Regions from separate parts of the Homo sapiens genome. Here region 1 is linked to region 2. Evidence: fine-mapped QTL for protein levels in blood plasma. A gene starts in region 2. The other region holds a variant in brackets. All regions are shown on one strand. Distances are from middle to middle.

Region 1 (9,647 bases), 1.2 Mb after region 2:
AGGTGATGTCACAGTCACAGGTACTAGGAATTGAACTTGAACATATCTTTTTTGCTGGGGGAGTTGGGGGTGGGGGGGACTTACAGTCCAACCCATAATAACAAGTGACATGGGAAGCTTTTAAAGAGTTAGGCAACACTGTTGCCCAACTTAAAAATATAACTCCTTTGATGCCTGGTGAGAAATGGAGTGAAGGGTCAGATGGAACCTGGAGCCTAGTCTTCCCGATGTGGGATGTGTTGGCATCTGAGCCTGAGATAAAAGGGTGCATACGCATGTGTTTTGGCATGAGCACACACGGGTAGCCATCACATTCTAAAGGCAATTTCCATTCTGCACCCTCTGTGATGCCTTGCAAGGCATGCCTTTTCTTTGTGCTTTCATAGCCTTTGGCTTATACTTTTATTTGGCCTGTGTTTAGTTTTACCCTGTTTTAGAATTATATGTGTAGCAGGACTGTCAGGAGTGAAGACATGTCTTTTGTAGGAGGGCTTTTGTCTAAATAAGAAAGAGGAAAATGCTTGCACACACAGCTGTATTGAAGAGGGATTGAATAGTTTAGCGATTTCACAGAGAGTGACTCCCTGGGTCAGGCCCATGGATTCATTTCTGAGCATTGTGGAGAACGGGGAAAGAAGGGACTCAGGTTAAAGAGCAGAAAGAGCCGCAGTTCCATAGAAACCAGGGCACAGTCCTGGTGGTGTAGGGCTCAGGGAACACTGTTACTCAGAGGGGAAGAGAGAGGCATTCATCCCTGCTGTCAGCTGAATGTATGTGTCCCATCAAAATTCATATGTGGAGACTTAATCCCTAATGTGATGGAGTTAGGAGGTGATTAGGTAATGAAGGTGGAACCCTCTTGAATGGGATTAGTGCCCTTATAAAAGAGATCCCAGAGAGCTCATTTGCTCTTCTACCATGTGAGAACACAGTGAGAAGAGACAATCTATGAACCAGGAGGCATGTTCTTACAAAACACGGAATCTGCAAGTGCCTTGATCTGGGAGTTCCTAGCCTCTAGAATTGTAAGAAATAAATTTCTCTTGTTCATAAGCACCCCAGTGTATGGTGTTCTATTATAACAGCCCAAACAGACTAAGACAGTCCTCCTCTTGCTTATAGAATAGCTTGGCTGTAAGGACATCTAAGACTTCTCGGATGCATTGGTATCATGTGTTTGTGGTTTTGGGATCTTCAGAAGTCAAATGTCTAATCGATTCCAGCACTCTTTGAGTGGACGGTGGCCAGCGTGATTGTGGCAAGATGGTACCCTCATGCAAAATCATGAGATTCTGAAGTGCCATCAGCACAAAAGAATGGGAGAAATCAGCTTGTGAAATCATTCAAGAACCTCATGCATACCTGGAGAAAGATCTGGGAAAGTCTAGTGGAAGCTTGCTGTTTCCCATGTCTAGTACATGAACCTCTTCTGATGTTGGAGAAATTGCCCACTGTATGAGACTTCAGGAAAGGCCCTGCCTACCTCTGACCACAGAGCCACAAAGCAAGGCACAGGTACCCACTGTCCCTTCTTTCTTTGAGGTTAGTCCCTATGGTTGTATCATCTATGCTCAGCCAATCAGAAATACTGCTCCAGGACTTTGGAAGCTATAGAAGCAAAGAAGCAGTGACAGTGGAGAAACTCCTTCAGAGTGGGTGATGATAGCAAGGGCGGTGGCAGAAACACCCATTCCCATGAGCAGCGGTGGTAGTACCATGGGCCTTCATGTTTGGTACAGATGGAGTATGGCTGTGTGATGAACTGAAAAATGGGCCTCCAAAGATTGTGGCTGTTTCCTTATATGGTAAAATATCTGATAAAGTGAAGGATCTTGAGAGGAGGAGTTTATCCTACATTATCCATGTGGCCCCTAAATGCAATCTCATGCTTCCTTGTAAGAGACAGGCAGAGGGTGTTTTGAGAGAGATAGACAGAGGAGAAGGCAATGTGGCCAGGAGGCAGGATATGGCCACAAGCCAAAGAAGGCCTGGAGCCACCAGAAGTTGGAAGAGGCCAGGGAAGAATTCTTCCCTAAAACATTTGGAGAGAATATGGCTCTGCAACACACCCCAATTTTGAATTTCTGGCCTCCAGAACTATGAGAGAATACATTTCTGTTTTTGATCCACAGAGTTTGTGATAATTTGTTAAATCAGGTACAAAAAACAAATATATCTTCCTGTTTGTTTTCTGGGCCAGGTGATCCCAAATTCCTAGCAATTCTCTGAGCCATCCTTTCAACAAATTTTCTTTTCTGCCTAAATCAGAGGCAGTTTCTGTTGCTTGTCATTAAGAGCTGGGATTGCTAGAGTCAATCTTTCTTGGGAGGAGGGGATGACAATGTTCAGAGACAAAAAAAAAAATGCTGCCCCAGAACATAATCTACTTTGTACCCATTTTCTGCTGAGCCCTAGAGAAAACCAGCTTACAATGGCCATAATATTTCTGCCTCCTTCATCAGCCACTGCTGGTGCCACTCCTTCATCAGTCTATGTACATCATCCCAGGGAGATCAAAAGTACAGAACATTGGTTAACCTTAGCCTTCAGTAAGGATGTTAATTTTCTCAGATATGGGAGAGAAATAAGGAAGGGGAGAGATTTTGATGGGGAGAACACATTGAAGGTACTAACCCCATCTGGTGTAAGTCTTCTCAGAATGCTGAGCAGCTCCTTAGAATGTGAGTGTTGCAGGTTTGGGACCAAGATGGTGTGAATGAGTGGCTCACACACACCCTTTCTTACCCATGCCTGTGGCAGATACGACTAATCAATTCTTGTACTCTTTTTCTCACAATCCTTCTAAAACAGTGATCTGAATAGCTGTTCTCAATTGTTTGGATGTAGAATAGGATATAAAATCTATTGGCATTTTTAGTTTGTAGGCTTGAGGAAAGGAGAGACAGATAGCACAGAGTAAGCAACGGGAGCTGAATGCAGGAATGACTTAGCATCTGTGAAGGCCTGAGAGGAACATCAGGACATTGCAGTGAATCTAGTAGGTGTATAGTTATAACTTTCTCCTGCAGGTCTGTTGGGCCAAATATTGAGTCCGAGCATGGTCAATGGGTTTTGTTAAGAGGGGAAGGTAGAAGGACTAGAAGGTAAGGAGACACTTACAGTGCTCTTGATATGGTTCACCAGGAGTCTCCTGGACTTTCATGAAGTGGATGGAGAATGAGAGCACTTTAATATAGGTTTAATGATGCAATAATGAGAAAGCGTGCAGGGTCAATGGAGGCAAAATGATAAAAGGTAGAGTGCAGAAGGAAGTAACAGCCAGAACATGGGATTTCAAAACGTGCTATCAGAGGTGAAGTAGTTCTGAGGGATGGTTGCATATAGTCATGGCCCTGTGGAGGATGACTGGTGTGGGGTGGGGAATGGAAGATGTTGAACTTAGGAGATCAAGGGAATGCAAGTTCAATTTGCTGCATGGGTTTGCAAAGTGGACACTGAGATGAAGAGGATTTGTGTCAAAGAGGAAACCAATCACCAAAATATAAAAGAAACTCAAACAACTCAACAACAGTAACAACAAAACCCCAAATATCCTATTAAAAAGTGGGCAAAGAACATTTTTCAAAAGAAGATATGTAAACAATCAACAGACATATGAAAAAATGCTCAACATCACTAATCATCAGAAAAATGCAAATTGAAACCATAATGATGTATCATCCTACTCCAGAATGGCTATTATTAAAAAGATTTAAAAAGAAATGTTAGCAAGGATGTGCGGAAAAGGGAACTCTTATATACTGTTGGTGGGAATGTAAATTAGTGCAGCCTCTAAGGAAAACAGTATGGAGATTTCTCAAAAAACTAAAAGAGGACTACCATTGATCCAGCAATTCCACTCCTGGGTATCTACCCAAGGAAAATAAATCAATATATCAAAAAGGTACCTGTACTTGTATGTTTATCATAGCACTATTCACAATAGCAAAGATATGGAATCAAACTAAGTGTCCATCAACAGACAGATGGATTAAAAAATGTGGTAAATATACATAACAGAATACTAGTCAGCCATAAAAAAGAATAAAATCATCTTTTGCCACAACATGGATGGAACTGGTGGTCATTATCTTAAGTGAAGCAACCCAGGCCCATAAAGAAAAATATTACATGTTCTCAGTTTTCACTGGTTATTAAAAAATCTGTTCACATGACCATAGAGGTGGAATGATAGGTAACAGAGACTTGGAAGGGTGAGGGGGTGTGAAGGGAGAGGATG[G/T]TGAGAAATTACTTAATAGTATAATGTACATTATTTGAGTGATAGATACCACAAAAGTCCTGAGTTGGTTGCTATGCAGCCTATACATGTAGCAAAATCACACAGGTACCTCATAAATTTAAACACATTTATAGATATTTCAAAAAAACTACAGTTTTTATTCAAAATTCAGCATTGAATATTAAAACAAAGAATATGGCTAGGCGCAGTGGCTCAGGCCTGTAATCCCAGCACTTTGAGAGGCTGAGGTGGGTGGATCACCTGAGGTCAGGAGTTTGAGTCCTTCCAGTCTGGCCAACATGGTGAAACCCCATCTCTACAAAAATACAAAAATTAGCCAGGCATGGTGGCTCACACCTATAATCCCAGCTACTCGGGAGACTGAGGCACGAGAATTACTTGAACCTGGGAGGCAGAGGCTGCAGTGAGCTGAGATCGTTCCACTGCACGCTAGCCTGGGCGACAGAGTGAGACTTCGTCAAAAAAAAAAAAAAACAAACAAAAAAAACAAAACCCCAAAAGCAAACAAAACAAAACAAATAATATATAGTTTGAATACTTCTATGAGTATCAGTTTTTTATTCCTTGATTTTTCTTGGCCACGTTTATGATGATAAAGTATAACCGAGGTGTCAATATGCGTTGTGTTTTGTTTTCATTGAATTCTCCCCTCCTCCAGCTCTAAGAAGAAGGTAACCAGAACTCTGTATGCTTTGATTCTCTTTGTTGTTGGATAAGATGGGAAGATGCCTGGAAGTACTCTCCCAACCCATTCCCCATTCCATGTCAAAAACACATGCACTTGGTGTTTACGACTTCTGTTTCACAAACTATAACTCTTTGATGTGATTGTGCCAGGGAGAGGAGAAAAGGGAGCATTAGTGAGGGTCCCAACAGAAAACAGCACACGCACATGGGCTAGCTGAATGCATTTAATGAGGGAGCAATTTACAAAATTGTGGGAAAGGTTAAAAGAAACAAAGAATGGTGCAGCACTCCATGGCTAGGAACAGAGAGGAGCCTTTACCAGCTCTAGATCTGCAAGGTACGGAAGTGATTACTAAAACCAGAACCAGCCACCAGATAAGAGCTGTGGCCCCTGGTAGAGGGAGAAGCCCAATCTGTGATGACCGGACAGGAGAGAATCTGAGGAAATAAAACACCTACTTCACTCTATTCCTACCTTCCAATATGGCACCTTCCATTGGCTGAACTCGTAACCCCATTAACCAAACCCAAATCAAGGCCAGGAGGCAAGAGAGTTGGTTGATGTGGAACTTAAAGGTTAGTCTCCAAATACTGAGTAGGTGGTATGCGTAGCTCTGGAGGGGAAATGGAAAATATCTAGCTTAGGGGGTGAGTACCTTTTTGGGGTGGGAAGGAGACAAAAAAGGAATAAATTTCCCAAGACAGAGCAGCATAGTGGTTTTGGGCTTCAGGACCAGATTTAGCGGGATTATGTGCCTCAGCCCCTATTGTACCCAGGGGTGGGACAGGGTTTCACAGAGCACCCAGAGGCTGTATTCTCAGTGCCAGGTGTCCCAGCCTCAGACAACAGAACAGAAACATAGAACAAACCCAAAGCCAAGAGAGCTCCTGCAGGAGATTCTGTGTTGCAAAAACAATTAATTTATCTTTAGAGGAGAAAGACTCTATAATGTGTAAGGTCAAATTTCCCACATTCTCGCAGGATTGGGGTTAAGAATTAGAATGAATTTGCATTTAGAAAAACCAAGTAACTGTATTTCCTGCATGCTTAGGATCTGAGAGTGAAATTTGTATTGATTATGCTAATAAATGAATTCAAGTATAATAAAAAAGTCTTAACAGATAATTCAGACTAATCCAAGTGCTCCTTCATGTCTGAACCTCTCCAATGCCTCAGATATGTGTGAGTGAAAGAGGGTGCAGGCTTGGGTGCCCCTCCTAAGTCGGAATGGGCCTAAAAGCAGCAGAGTTCTTTCAGAATCTTACAGGACAATGAGACAACAAGTTATTTGGTGAGGAAAGGGTCAACACTGGTCTCAGATTCATCCAGAAATCAGACTACTCCAGATAGAGGCTCTGCCATCAAGCTGGTATTTTTGGTTAATCACCTGACACGCTCTTGATTCTGTCTTTCCCTGGTTTGAGCAGCGGCATCAACAGCCTCAAGACCTTGAAGTCAAATTGTGCCATTGGCTAAAAGTTTTGCAGAGCTCCACTGTGTTGTGGAGAGCTCACTGTCATCCCCTCCAGCTGGCAGCCCATTGTATGCCTCATGGAATGGCTTAGGTGTCACATACTGAGATGTGAGTGTCATTTAAGGATGCGAGGAGAGAAGGCTTGAATGTGCACAGAGACAGCCAAGAGGATAGCATTAGGGTGGGAAGAACTGGGCTTTGAATCAGAGTATGTGGGTGCAAGTCCATGCTCCAGTGCTCACCAGCTGTGTGACACTGGACGTATCACTTAAGCTTTCTGAGCCTCTACATCTATGAGAGATAGGTTATGGGACTTGTTCAAATGTACACAGATGGAAAGTGCAGCAATCCAAATTCTAACTTTGATCTGTCCAATTTATTATTCGTTCATCGAAAAATGTTTACTGAACAAGTCATTGTGCCAGATATGGGGAATATCTCCTGTCATTGAGCCATCAAGGAAGAAAGAGCTTAAACAAATAATAATGAGTGTGGTTAGTGCTATAGAGAAGCAGAGGGTCTATTAGAAGAATATAAAAGGAAGAACAGTAAATGGGGTAAAAAATGGTATAATTTATATTCTAGTAGAACACTCACTATTACAGCTATTATTATCTAAGATGCAGAAACATTTTATGCACAAATCTATTAGTTATAATATTATTCATAATAACAGGAAGTTGGAAACAACCTAAGTGTCCAACCATAGGGGACCAGTTAAATAAATTGTGCCAAATTGTTGTGTTATATAATAGAGTCACTTAAAATGATGCTTATTATAGTTTATGATGTTATGGGGGAAACATACCGTAAATGTGTGAAAAATACAGAGCATGAGGTTGTTTATACTGTATAATCTCATATATACTTGAGGAAAGAGCCTATGTATGTAATATATGTAAACTATATAATTCACATGTATTTGGGTGAAGAGTATGTGAAGGAAGAACCTAGATCATTCTGAGTAGTGGTGGAAATTATAAACAATTATTTTTATTTATTTTTTCATACATTTCATAAATTCCCTAGCGAACCAAAGGAAAATAATAAATAAAACCTCATGCAGCACTAATGTATTTGTTGAATACCTGCTCTAATGTCACAAGAATTTATGTGGCCCTTAGGAATACAGGAGATCATAAGGTATGTCAAGGATTCACCTAGGAGGAGCCCATATGCTTGCTGGGATACACAAAATAAACATATGCTGCAATAGAAAACAAGATGATGCTAAATAATAATAATTCAGGCAATTCACTGAGTGTTAGCATAACAGCAACTTGCCTTAAATGAGCATGTACTCTACCCGAGATACTGTTGTAAATACTTTCCACATGTCATCACCTTGCATGATGGGAACACACATTACTCCATTTTATGGATGTCATAATTGAGACTGAGAGAGTTACTTAGTAACTTTGCTAAGGTCACACAACTAATAAGTGATGAAGTCAGATTCCAACCCTTGCTTTTTTAATATTAAGGCTGGGCTCCTCATCATTATGCTGCAATGCCTATGAACAGCTTTCTAGGGAAGAGAAAAGTTGAAGTTGGCCTTAAAGAATGGTAGGATTTATAGAGACACAGGAACCACAGCAGGGAATGGAACATGGGGGACACATAATTTGATATTTTCTGAATACTTATTGGGTTCTTCTCTGAGCTAGACGTGGGGAGAATTGGGTGGCCTCAGCCCTGCTCACTGGGCACATTCATTCAATGCATGCTTGCTGAGCTCCTGCTGTATGCCCCCACACGATGTGCAAGGAGAACCATGGCCCCCACTCTTACGAAAAATGCAGGCTAGTGGCAGGTACTGACACTAAACATAAAGCAAAAACAATCTGTGAAGAAAAATAAAGCTCCAATTAAGAAAAGTGAAATGTCTATAAAAGAGTCAAAAGCAGATACGTGTGTCAAGGATGAACAGAAAGGCTGGGAGCTGGCTCTGGGATCTGAATTAAAAATGATTCTCAGCTTGGCTAAGGATATTTGGGGTCCATTCACAGGCAATTCTCAGAATAATAATTGTTAATAGGGACTGGAACTTAAAACTTATCTCATCAGGATATTGGCTTGACTTCATCTGAATCTCAGTTACCTAGTCTTTACAATGGGGATTATAATATCTAGGTTGCAGAGTTGTTGCGTGAATGAAAAGGATATGGCACATAAAGAGTTGACCACAATGCCTGCAGAAGGAAAGGAGCCAAAGCCATTGTTATTGCTTTAGGGGGCAAAGAGCAAAAAGATGGAGGTATTGTGACTTCAAAATCTAACTTTTCTTATATGAACATGAATTCTTTTCCATTGGTCTTTGGGTCCTACTGGAATGATATATGATGGATCCATTCTTTCACAGCCTATGCTCTGGGAAGTGCATATCCATTGAGAAGGATTTGTGCTGGTAACTGTTTTCTCTTTTTCCTCTTCTTCTTCCTCCACATCCTCTCCCTTATGTTATTATTATGTTTGCAAAGCTTTATCCCCTTCATATACTCTCTGTCCTTCTCTGTACCTTATAAAGTCAACCTCCATAGATCCCATCAACTGGCTCCCTTGCTATTGTCTCCAAATTGGGATTGGCCCGTGGGAGCTTCCAGCTGGTGATTGGAAGGAAGGAGTAGGGAGAGGTCAGAGTGTTTCTTCCCCACTCCCCCTTGGTGTCCTGTTTCTGGCAATAGCTTCCTCCCATTGTGACTACAGCTCTCACCTGTAGGACCCTTCTCCAATAATACATACTCCGATTATTCTTGCAGCCTAGGGATGGTAATAACTTTGCATTGCAAATCCTGAGTACCCCTTGCTTATTCCCTTAACTTTGGCCCCTGAACCTCCTATATTCTGGTGATGCTGAGGATCTCACCTGAGAGTGCTGCTCCAGGTTTGCCTGATGGTGGGCGTGGGCAGTGGGAGAGAAATCACAGCATTGACGGTCTTCTCTTCTCCAACTCAGCACCCTGAATCGAGTTCTGGTCTTGAGTGCTAATTGGTCTGCTCTCCTGCTGAAAAGTGGCCAAAGTGAATTTGTTTGCAATGTGAAGGGAACCTTGAGCTCTGGAGGCCCAGTATAATGCCAGTGCTTAATGGCTCTGTGGAGTTCTGCTGGATACAAAGGAGGGAGAAGAGAGGGCATCTCTTCTTCCCCCTAACATCTCAGCCTGTGGGAGTGATTGTATCCCTGCCACTTGTCTTTCTAAAGAGGCTGAGCCGCCTGAGGGCTC
Region 2 (9,539 bases):
TCTGGAGAGTGGGTCAGTCCACTATGCTGTTGTTCTTTCCACTACCACATGGTGTGGCTGTTGACCCGTCATTCTGCACAGCCCATTGTCCTGTGTAGTCACCTGTCCACTAGGACTGTTGCTCCCGTCACTACCACACGGTGTCGCTGTTGAAAAGCTAGCCTGCACAGCCCACCTTCCCTGCCCCACACTTGGGCTCCCCGTTTCATCCATGTTCTCCTGCCCAGCCATTGTCCCCAAAAGCAGAACAATGGGCCAGGTGACAGAGTCCATTGGGGTTTTCTGCTTCAGTCACATCTTTGGGTGCAATTAGCACTTCCCCATGACTCTCCCAGCTCTAGTGTGGAAGCCAGATCACCAACCCAGACTGTCTTTGGAATTCTGGGGAGTTTCCTTGGGGGCTTTGGGCCATTTCCTGCCATGGGACATCAGAGGGGGCTATCTCAGCCCATGAGATGGGGTTTTATGGATTGTACTTCAGATTGATTGAGGAGTCCTGGAAGGCCTTTCTACACTGCTGACATGTGCTCTGAGACCATAAGGATGAGCAACAACACACTGGAGGAGTTCGATGCAGACGGTGGAGTGGGGGACCACATGACCAGATTTAGTTTTTAAAATGTTTTATTGTGACTTCTGAAAGCATCAGAAGGACAAGAGGGCAAGGGATGAGCACAAATTAGGAATGTGTTGTTATTCAAGCTTCAACCAGATTGGTGATGGTAAAATTGAAGAGAAGCATTTGTAGCGAGCAAAAGCAGATAAAAGGTATTTATTTTATTTATAAAGAAAAATGTACACACTTCTGCTGACATCATTGATTCTCTGTCAAATGGAGTTAAAGGCTCTAGGGCCACACAAGAAGGGAGGGCCATTGATCAAACACTCTCAGGAGTCAAGCAAAGGGCATGAATGATCTAATTTAATCCTGATAGCATTCTTCATCCCCCAAGATGGCAATTGCTCAAACTTTTTTGGTTGTTTGTTTTTGAGACAGAGTCTTGCTCTGTCACCCAGGCTGGAGTGCAGTGGCACGATCTCAGCTCACTGCAACCTCTGACTCCCAAGTTCAAGCGATTCTCCTGCCTCAGCCTCCTGAGTAGCTGGGACTACAGGCATGTGCCATCATGCCTGGCTAATTTTTGTATTTTTAGTAGAGATGAGGTTTCATCATGTTGGCCGGGCAGGTCTCAAACTCCTGACCTCAGGTCATCTACCTGCCTGGGTCTCCCAAAGCGCTGGGATTACAGGGGTGAGCCACCGAGCCCAGCTGTTCAAACATTTTAAATTGAGTTACCCTTCCCTGATCACATAGCCAGCAGGTGGCAGAGTTGGAATTCCCACCTTATCTATTCCCACATGTCAGAGCCCATGCTTTTTTTGCTCCTCCCCGATGTCAAAATGTTGTCTGTTCTGGGGGACTTGGCACGTTTAAAGCAGAACTTCTTTGTTCTGTGGCATAGGTTGTACACTGTAAAACATAGGTTGTACCAGGTTGAGGAAACAAAAGTCTTTCTCTAATTTGTCCACCAGTAGTATGCATCTTTTTCTCCACTAGCCAGGGGCTATGGAGGCCCTGAATAGAACAGAAGAGCAGCTAGCAAGGGCGGAAGGAAGAGAGAGAAGGGAAGCACAGCGTGGGATAGACTGGGAGGCCATGAGGACTGTTAAGGGCTCTAGGTTTTGTTCCAAAAGATAAGGCAAGCCACTGGAGAGTTTTGAGCAGAAGAATGTTACAATCCAATTCACATTTGTAAAAGAGCCCTCTGGCTGCTGGGGAGACTAGCTGGTAGATATGGACACACACCTGCCATCCCCCACCCTCATTCTCTTTGGAGTTAACCCCCTTCTACACCTGCCCTCTACTTTCTGTAACATATAGGCACCCCCTGCTCCACACTCTATAGAAAAAAAAAAAAAAATGCAATTATTAGGTTGGTGCAAAAGTAATTGCGGTTTTTGCCATTACTTTTAATGCAAAAACCGCAATTACTTTTTTTTTTTGGAGACAGAGTCTCGCTCTGTCACCCAGGCTGGAATGCAGTGGTGTGATCTTGGCTCACTGCAACCTCTGCCTCCCGGATTCAAACCGTTCTCCTGCCTCAGCCTCCCAAGTATCTGGGATTACAGTCTCACACCAGTACGCGCGGCTAATATTTTGTGTACATATATTTTTAAATATAGACAGGGTTTCTCCATGTTGGCCAGAGTGGTCTCCAACTCCTGACCTCAAGTGATCCACCCACCTTGGCCTTCCAAAGTGCTGGGATTACAAGTGTGAGCCACTGAATCCAGTCTTGGCCGTTACTTTTAATGCCAAAAAAAATAATTACTTTTCCATCAACCTAAATCTTTCTTGGACCTGAAGATTGGTGCATGAAACACATTGTGCCTGCGAACTTCTCTCTAATGGCTGAGGAAAGGCAGTTGCTTGGGGGTTAGGGTTTGAGCAGCATTCCCCAACACACTCCAAAGGTTCTGCCAAGTTGGCTACAGAACCACTATTTGAGCAGCTTCTCCCTTCAGGCTAAGCATTGTCTGCTGCAGATGACTGCAAATGTGTGTTTGGGGTTTCTTTGGGTGACGTTGAAAATGTTCTAAAATTAAATTCTGGATTGTACACTTTAAATGGGTGAATTTTATGTATATGAAATATATGTCAATAAAGTGGCAAAAGACAATTGAAGAAGAAAAAAAAGAATTGTTCACTCCAAACTGCCTAAAAGCTCACCATCAGAGCAGCTTCCCTTCTGGGATAAGCACAGCCTTCCTGGGGTTCCTTTTGGAAATGCTGACTTATTAAATAAATATGAGGGAGGAGTACCCTCTGCAAGGAGAGAAGGTGGGGAGGGGCACAGGAAGACTAAGCACTGTCTTCATCATTTTGCCATGTCCCGCTAGTGGCCATGAGCAGCCCTGTCCCTGGGTCTATCTCTTCAGGCTTATGATCCTATTTAATCCTCATGACAACCGCTAAAGGTAGCCAAGGTTGCCCTTGTTTTTCAGATGAGGAGTCTCTAGAAAAGTCGTGTGGCCTGCTAAGCTAACTGTTCAGAGCCTGGGCTCTGGAGTCACCTGGCGGTGGTTTCAAACATAAATCCGGCCCCCTCAAGAGCTGTGTGACTTTGCAAATGTTCCTTAACCTCTCTGGCCCTCTATTTCCTCCTTTGAAAAGGAGAGTTAAAATCTTGCCCTCTCGGCATGAGGTTATTGGGAAGAATCAGAGGTATGATTGATAGGGTCATGGCACAGTGGTTAAGAGTATGAACCATGATCCCAGATATCTTGGGTTTAAATCCCACGTCTGCTATTTACCAGCTGTGTGACTTTGGGCAGTATACTTAATTCTCAGGTTTTCTATTTCTCATCTATAAAGGGAACATCATTATAGTACCTACCTCATAAAGTTGTTATGAGAATCAAATACATGTCAAATCCGTGGTACAGGGGTTGACAACAGTAATCCAAGTTTGCTCTAATTTGAATAAACGCAGTTCTTCTTACTATACTGTAAAGACTATATCTGACCAGGTGCAGTGGCTCACGACCTGTAATCCCAGCACTTTGGAAGTCTGAGGCAGGTGGATCACTTGAGCCCAGGAGTTCGAGACCAGCCTGGGCAACATGGCGAAACCCAGTCTCCACTAAAAACACAAAAATTAGCCGGGCGTGGTGGCACACACCTGTAGTCCCAGCTACTCAGGAGGCTGACGCACGAGTATCATTTGAACCCAGAAGGCGGAGGTTGCAGTGTGCTGAGATCACACCACTGCACTCCATCCAGCCTGGGTGATGGAGTGAGACTCTGTCTCAAAAAAAAAAAAACAAAAAAAATACTATATCTGGCTACAGTAGTATTCCCAATGCCTGCCACATAGTTGGTGATCAGTAAGTATTTATTTTAAAAATGATCTGGGATTTCAACCCACATCTGCATAACTCAAAACATTTATGCCAGTGATTCTCAATGTATGATCCAGGGCTGTCTGCCTGAATGGGCCTGACCCCAAGAATCAGAGCCCCTGGCTGGCCAGAACTCTGGATTTATCCTCTCCAGTTCAGCAATAGGCTCACAGTGTAACCTGGGCCAGTTCTCCCTCTCTAGGTCTCAGTTTCCCCATCTGTAAAAGTAAGGGCTCTCTGGGGTGAGGAGCTGTTTATCCACATGACCAGCCCTGCTCCATGGGGGCTCCTGGTATCTCAAGACACGCAACCTTCAAGCCACAAAGGATCGTCACTGACGTTACTACTTTTATTTTGTAAGCCCGCATGTCTCAGGGCTCATGTGTGTGTGTCTGTGCGTGTGCGTACACAGGCACACATTCAGATCTGCAGGTGATGTGGCTTGGGGAGAGGCTGCCATAAATATTAAACTCCCAACTCCAAAGTACCCTGCAGAGATTCAGAACTGCAGGAATTCATAACATCATTCTCTTTCAAGAGTCAGTGTTCTCAGGAGTGTGGGCACCGTCATAGAAAACTATCGAAAAGGAGAGTGAAGCATTAGAGAACTGCTGAGCTTGGAGGGAACTCGGAGCTCATTTAGTCCCTTGTTCCCGAAGCTCCAAGCACAATCCGTGGTCAGCAGCATCACCCTCACCAGGGAGCTTGTTAAAATGCAGAGGCTCAGCCCCAAGAGGAACATGATGGATCAAGATTTGCATCTAAACAAGATCCCTGGGGGACTTGACTGCACGTCTTTGTTTCTGAAAAGCTGTCCTAGTCCCCAGCCCTCATCTGCATTTGGGGGAAACATGAGGAACAGAGAGGGGTGGAGTTTGTTCCAGGTCCCCCAGCCCATTAGGAGCAGGGCCTTGACAAAAAACCTGTAAGACTTTGGAAAAGGATTCAAAGCTCTCTGCGAGAGGCAGGCGTTTGCACAAAAGATGAATAAGTGCAGAAGAAATGCTCAGTGTTGCTAATTGTGTCCAACAGGGTTCAGGCAAGAAAAGAGAATCCAACTGCATTGGTTCTTGGGATTTGAATAAAGTGGCTATTTCTAGAGTTGGGGGACAAGCTTGAGGAAACCAACCAGGGACTGTTTTTCCTAAGGCTCAAGCAGCAAAGAAAAGCATCTGGGTATCCCAGCCCAAGGAGATAATAGGAGCCAAGGACAAGGCCTTATCAGGAGGGACACAGCCAACTGCCACACTTGTGATCTAGAGAAGACAGCAGGGAAAAGTGCCCTGACATCTGACCTCCTGCCATGCCACCCTCTGGCTGAACCCAAGTAGAGATGAGGAAACTGAGTCACAAAGTGCCCAAAGTCACCCCGTGGGGGAGTCAGGATTCAAATCCAGGCCATCTGGCCCCAGAGTCCATAAAGATAAACATAAGGTTTGTTTATTCCTTTGGCAATTATCTACTATTTGCTGCTCAGTATTCTAGACACTATGGATTCCAAATTCTGGGTTTTTCAAAATCTTTTCAGTAACACTTTTGTAGTGAGAATATTATCGGTGGCGAGTCCGCAACACTCCCAGCCCTTGTCTTCTCAGAGGAAAGAATTCAATTGAGAGACGCAGGCAAGTTTTAAAGCAGAGGCAAAGGTTTATTGAAAGAAGCAAAGTACAACTGAGAGATCAAGTGCCCCGCTCAACCTTTGGCTCGGGGCTTTTATACACTGGCTTGGTTCTGGGGTTTCTTCTCCTCCTTGATTCCTCCCTTCGGTGGGCTGCTGCGCCCTCCCTGCATGCGCAATGGCCTGCCAGCACTTGGGAGGGGCCGCATGCGCAGTGTGTTTACTAAGGTTGTGCGCATGCTCACTTGGGGTGATTTTCCCTTACTGGTCCGTCGCCGCAAGAAAAAGGTCATATACAAGTCAGACTCCAACATTTGCCCTTCTGCTCGACCTTACCAGGGAATTGTGGTTTGCTGGCTCCAGATGATGTCAACTATCTGTTAGGGAACTCCTCTCCCTCTTGGCGCCATTCGTGGCCACTTATCATGTCAGAGGGACAGTTTTATGATCGCCTGTCCATCATTTGATGCACTGCCATTTCTGGGGGCCCTCTCCTGCACAAGAACACAATAAACAGCCTTGTTAAAAGAGTCCCTATTTCACTGCAATAAGACTGAGTGGTGGCCAGAGTGGTAGCAGCTGTTGCTTTTGTGGAATTGGATGGACAGCCTGGTAGGAGAAAGGCCCAGGGGTTCTGACCAGCAGTGGGGTCGTGCTGCTCCCTGAGGCCTCTGCTGGGTCCTGGGCCATCAGCAGGGACCTTAGCCAGCAGTGGGCACCTGCAGGGGTGGAGGCCAGGCCTGGGCCATGTGGCAGCTCTAAGGTCCAAAGATTGCTGCTGTGGGAAATTCCCACCCCTGCAAATGACTCCCAGCCAGGGACATCCTTAAACTGCTGCCAGAGGAAGAGTGACATCTATGTCCCCATAAGATCCTTATGCTCCAGAATGTCCTCCCCCACTCTCCTCCCCTCCTGGGCAGGCTGAGGTCCAGGAAGCAAAGGCCCCTAGGCACACTGGGGATGCACCTGTGAGCCCTTTCCTGCTCCAAAGCCTCCCAAAGGCTGGCTCCTTACCCTGAGGCCTCTGCTCAGCTTGTTGCCTCCCAAGAGAACCCTGCCCTGACCAGAGTTTTGGAATGGCATCCTGCAGACCTGGACTTAAATTCCTGCTGGGTGACTGCAGCCTACATCACTTCACCCTGCCAAACCTCAGTTTCTTCATCTCAAGACAAGACTAAAATATCCACCTGGGGTTGCTGATGCAAGGATGAGAGGAGACGTGCAGCTTAACCAGCACAGCGCCTGCACATAGTAGGTGCTCAATAAATATCAGTTTCTTTCCAATTTCTGCTGGGTGCTGCAAGGATCTCAGGAAATGGAAGACTCAGCCGTGCCTGCAAGGAGCCATCAGACTGGTGGTGTGGGGACTGAGGGGAGGGACGGATGAGGATCCCAACAAACCTCAGCCCCAGTGACAGGAGCAACACGGTACAGAGGAGCAGAGAGGCCTGGACTGTGGGGTTCCCTGTGCTTAACGTGGGACATTCTGATCTTAACCTCAGTGCCTGCCAGTGCTGTTTGTGACCTATTGGGAGTCACCCTGTTAATCCCACCACATTCAGTTGGTTGAGGCCATCATGAAAACCTGCCCAATTTCAAGGGAAGGGGGCAGAAACATTACCTTTTGATGGAAGGAATATCAAAGAATTCGTGGGCATATTTTTAAAGGACCACAATTATCAAAAAGCAGAGTGGTTAATGCTGTGGTGGGGAAAGCGCAAAGGGTTCTGGGACCTCAGAGGGGACCCTTTCTAGAATCCAGAGAAGCATGGGAGTGGTCAGGGAAGGCTTCCTGGGGGTGAGGGCAAAGCAGAACTCACAAATGTAAGCAGGGCTGGGGCAAAACTCTAAAAATTAAACACAGTCTGTACTATAAATTTTGTTTTCCAGAATGAAATTTTACTATCTTTACTTACTGCGAATATATGCCCGGGACCATACCCCCAAGAAAATAAAAATTTTAGAGGCTGGGCATGGTGGCCCAAGTCTATAATCCCAGTATTTTGGAAGGCCAAGCGGGAGGCTTACTTGAGCTCAGGAGTTCGACACCAGCCTGGGCAACATAGCAAGACCTCGTCCCTACTAAAATACAAAAAATTAGCTGGACATGGTGGCTCACACCTGTAGTCCCAGCTACTTAGGGGGCTGTGGTGGGAGGATCACTTGAGCCCAGGAAGTTGAGGTTGCAGCGAGCGATGTTCATGCCACTGGACTCCTGCTTGAGCAACAGAGTAGACTTTGTCTCAAAAAATGAAAAAAGAAAAAAAAATTGTACGTATCAACAAGCAAAAACTTTTTTAACACTTATAATTCTACCCCCACAACCAGAGACAATGCCTCATGACTCCTTGCTAAATATTTTCCAGATTGTTGAACATAGAAGCCTATTTTGAACCCCCCAAAATAGAACCTTACTCTATGGTGCCATCGGAAACGGATGCCTCATGACATCCCTTTCCTTGCCAAGAAATACCTTTATTTCTGCAGCCTCACTTTAAGGGGCATGTCATAATTCATTTAACCAATGCCCTTCTGGTGGATACATGAGGTTGGGTCTCACTTCTCCTGTCCTGTTTCCCACAGCATAGCAGTGGTATCTTGGAGCAGTGATTTACTGGCACACTGACTCAATTATGTATTTAAGGGCAAGTCCCTGAAATTGAATTCCTGGGTCACAGGGCATGCAACTGTTTAAACATTTGCCAATTGCCTTCCAGAAAATTTCACCACCAGCAAGGTTTGAGAAACACTGTTTTCCCATTGGGGGAAACATTTATTTTTTAAATAAACGAGCCAATATATTTTAAAAAAGAGAGTTTGGTTGGTGCCAGATGTAGCTTCACTCTCAACCCTGCCCTCTGCTGGGGGTGAGATCTCAAGGGAGCTATGTGGCTTTTTTGAACCTCAGTTTCCTCATCTGCTAAACCAGGCCTTCCTAGCCGAGCTCTTAAGAGACTGGCTGAGATGAGGCAAGATGAACAGTGATGAATATGGGGTCTTTCTGTGGGGAGGGTGGACAGGGATGATCATAGGAGTCAGGCTTCCTCATCCACTGATCTGGGCAGTGAAAACTGGCTTCTAAGTATGACCTTATGACTTCAGTGATGTCGCAAGCAGGTTCCAGTCCCTGTGCCTCCCCTTCCCGCTCCCAGGAACCCATCCAGCCTCAGGAACTGCCCCCAGCCATCGAGCCTTGGCTACTTAAGGGACCTGGGCCCAATCCACAGCTGGGACAGTCCTGGCCCACTGCACTGGGAATCTAGGATGGGGGCCTTGGCCAGAGCCCTGCCGTCCATACTGCTGGCATTGCTGCTTACGTCCACCCCAGAGGCTCTGGGTGCCAACCCCGGCTTGGTCGCCAGGATCACCGACAAGGGACTGCAGTATGGTAAGAAGCCACATCTGCTGGCTGGACTTGGCAAACCCACGCTCCAGGCTGCTCTGGGTACAGTGGGGACAGGGAGTGGGGACACAGACCGGACCCTCTCCCTGGGGCAGTGCCACCTTCTGGGTCAGGTGGCTCTGGCTCCTATTCTGGCCTTACTGCCCACCAGCTGAGTGCCCTGGGCATGTTATTTGTGGTAGTGAGGTCCTCCACCAGCCAACAGAACACAGCTTTGCGTGCAAGTAGTTGATTTGGGAAATGATTCCAGGAAACACTGTAGGGAATCGGTACTGAGATGAGGAAGGGAGGGCAGCCAGGAGAGAGTGTGCAATTAAACCAGCCACCACCTCTGATGATGGGAACCACTCAGCTGGGAAAATTCTGCGTAAAGTTTGGAAACACATGCCTCTGAACTGGAAGTCAGAATTGTGGTCACCTCTAGAGGCAGGCAGAGACCCTGAAGGGCATGAGGGAGGTCTGCCGGGGTGCTGGAAGTTGCCATATCTTGATCCAGGTGGTGATCACATTCCTGTATAAACATTAAAAATTATTTAGCAATACCTTTAAAATTTGTGCCCGTTAGGTACTTTATGTATATTATTCCTCAATTTTAAAGAATGGGCAGGCCAGGCA

Which allele goes with the higher level. Alleles are on the strand shown, and positions count from the first base shown. The strength of an association depends on the size of the effect and on how common the allele is.
As copies of G replace T in region 1, the plasma level of the protein whose gene starts at base 8,751 in region 2 goes up (weak association).

Evidence for each region. A credible set is the group of variants that fine-mapping cannot tell apart. PIP is the posterior inclusion probability: the model's chance that the variant is causal. Protein levels are from antibody-based Olink assays in UK Biobank. Linkage for the fine-mapping came from a reference panel and not from the study's own genotypes, which makes the PIPs less certain.
Region 1: its variant is the best candidate, but not a certain one, in a credible set for the plasma level of the LBP protein (UK Biobank, PIP 0.88).

Annotation. Positions count from the first base shown.
Region 1 is chr20:39,492,025-39,501,671 of GRCh38, forward strand. No RefSeq gene overlaps it. Among named protein-coding and RNA genes, the nearest start is that of LINC01734, 270 kb to the left of the region's middle. The variant G/T (reference allele first, on the strand shown) is at 4,241.
Region 2 is chr20:38,337,732-38,347,270 of GRCh38, forward strand. LBP (lipopolysaccharide binding protein) reads left to right here and starts at 8,751. Exons shown (of 15, transcript NM_004139.5): 1 at 8,751-8,909. The coding sequence starts at 8,786. RefSeq lists enhancers at 4,470-5,246, 6,027-6,804.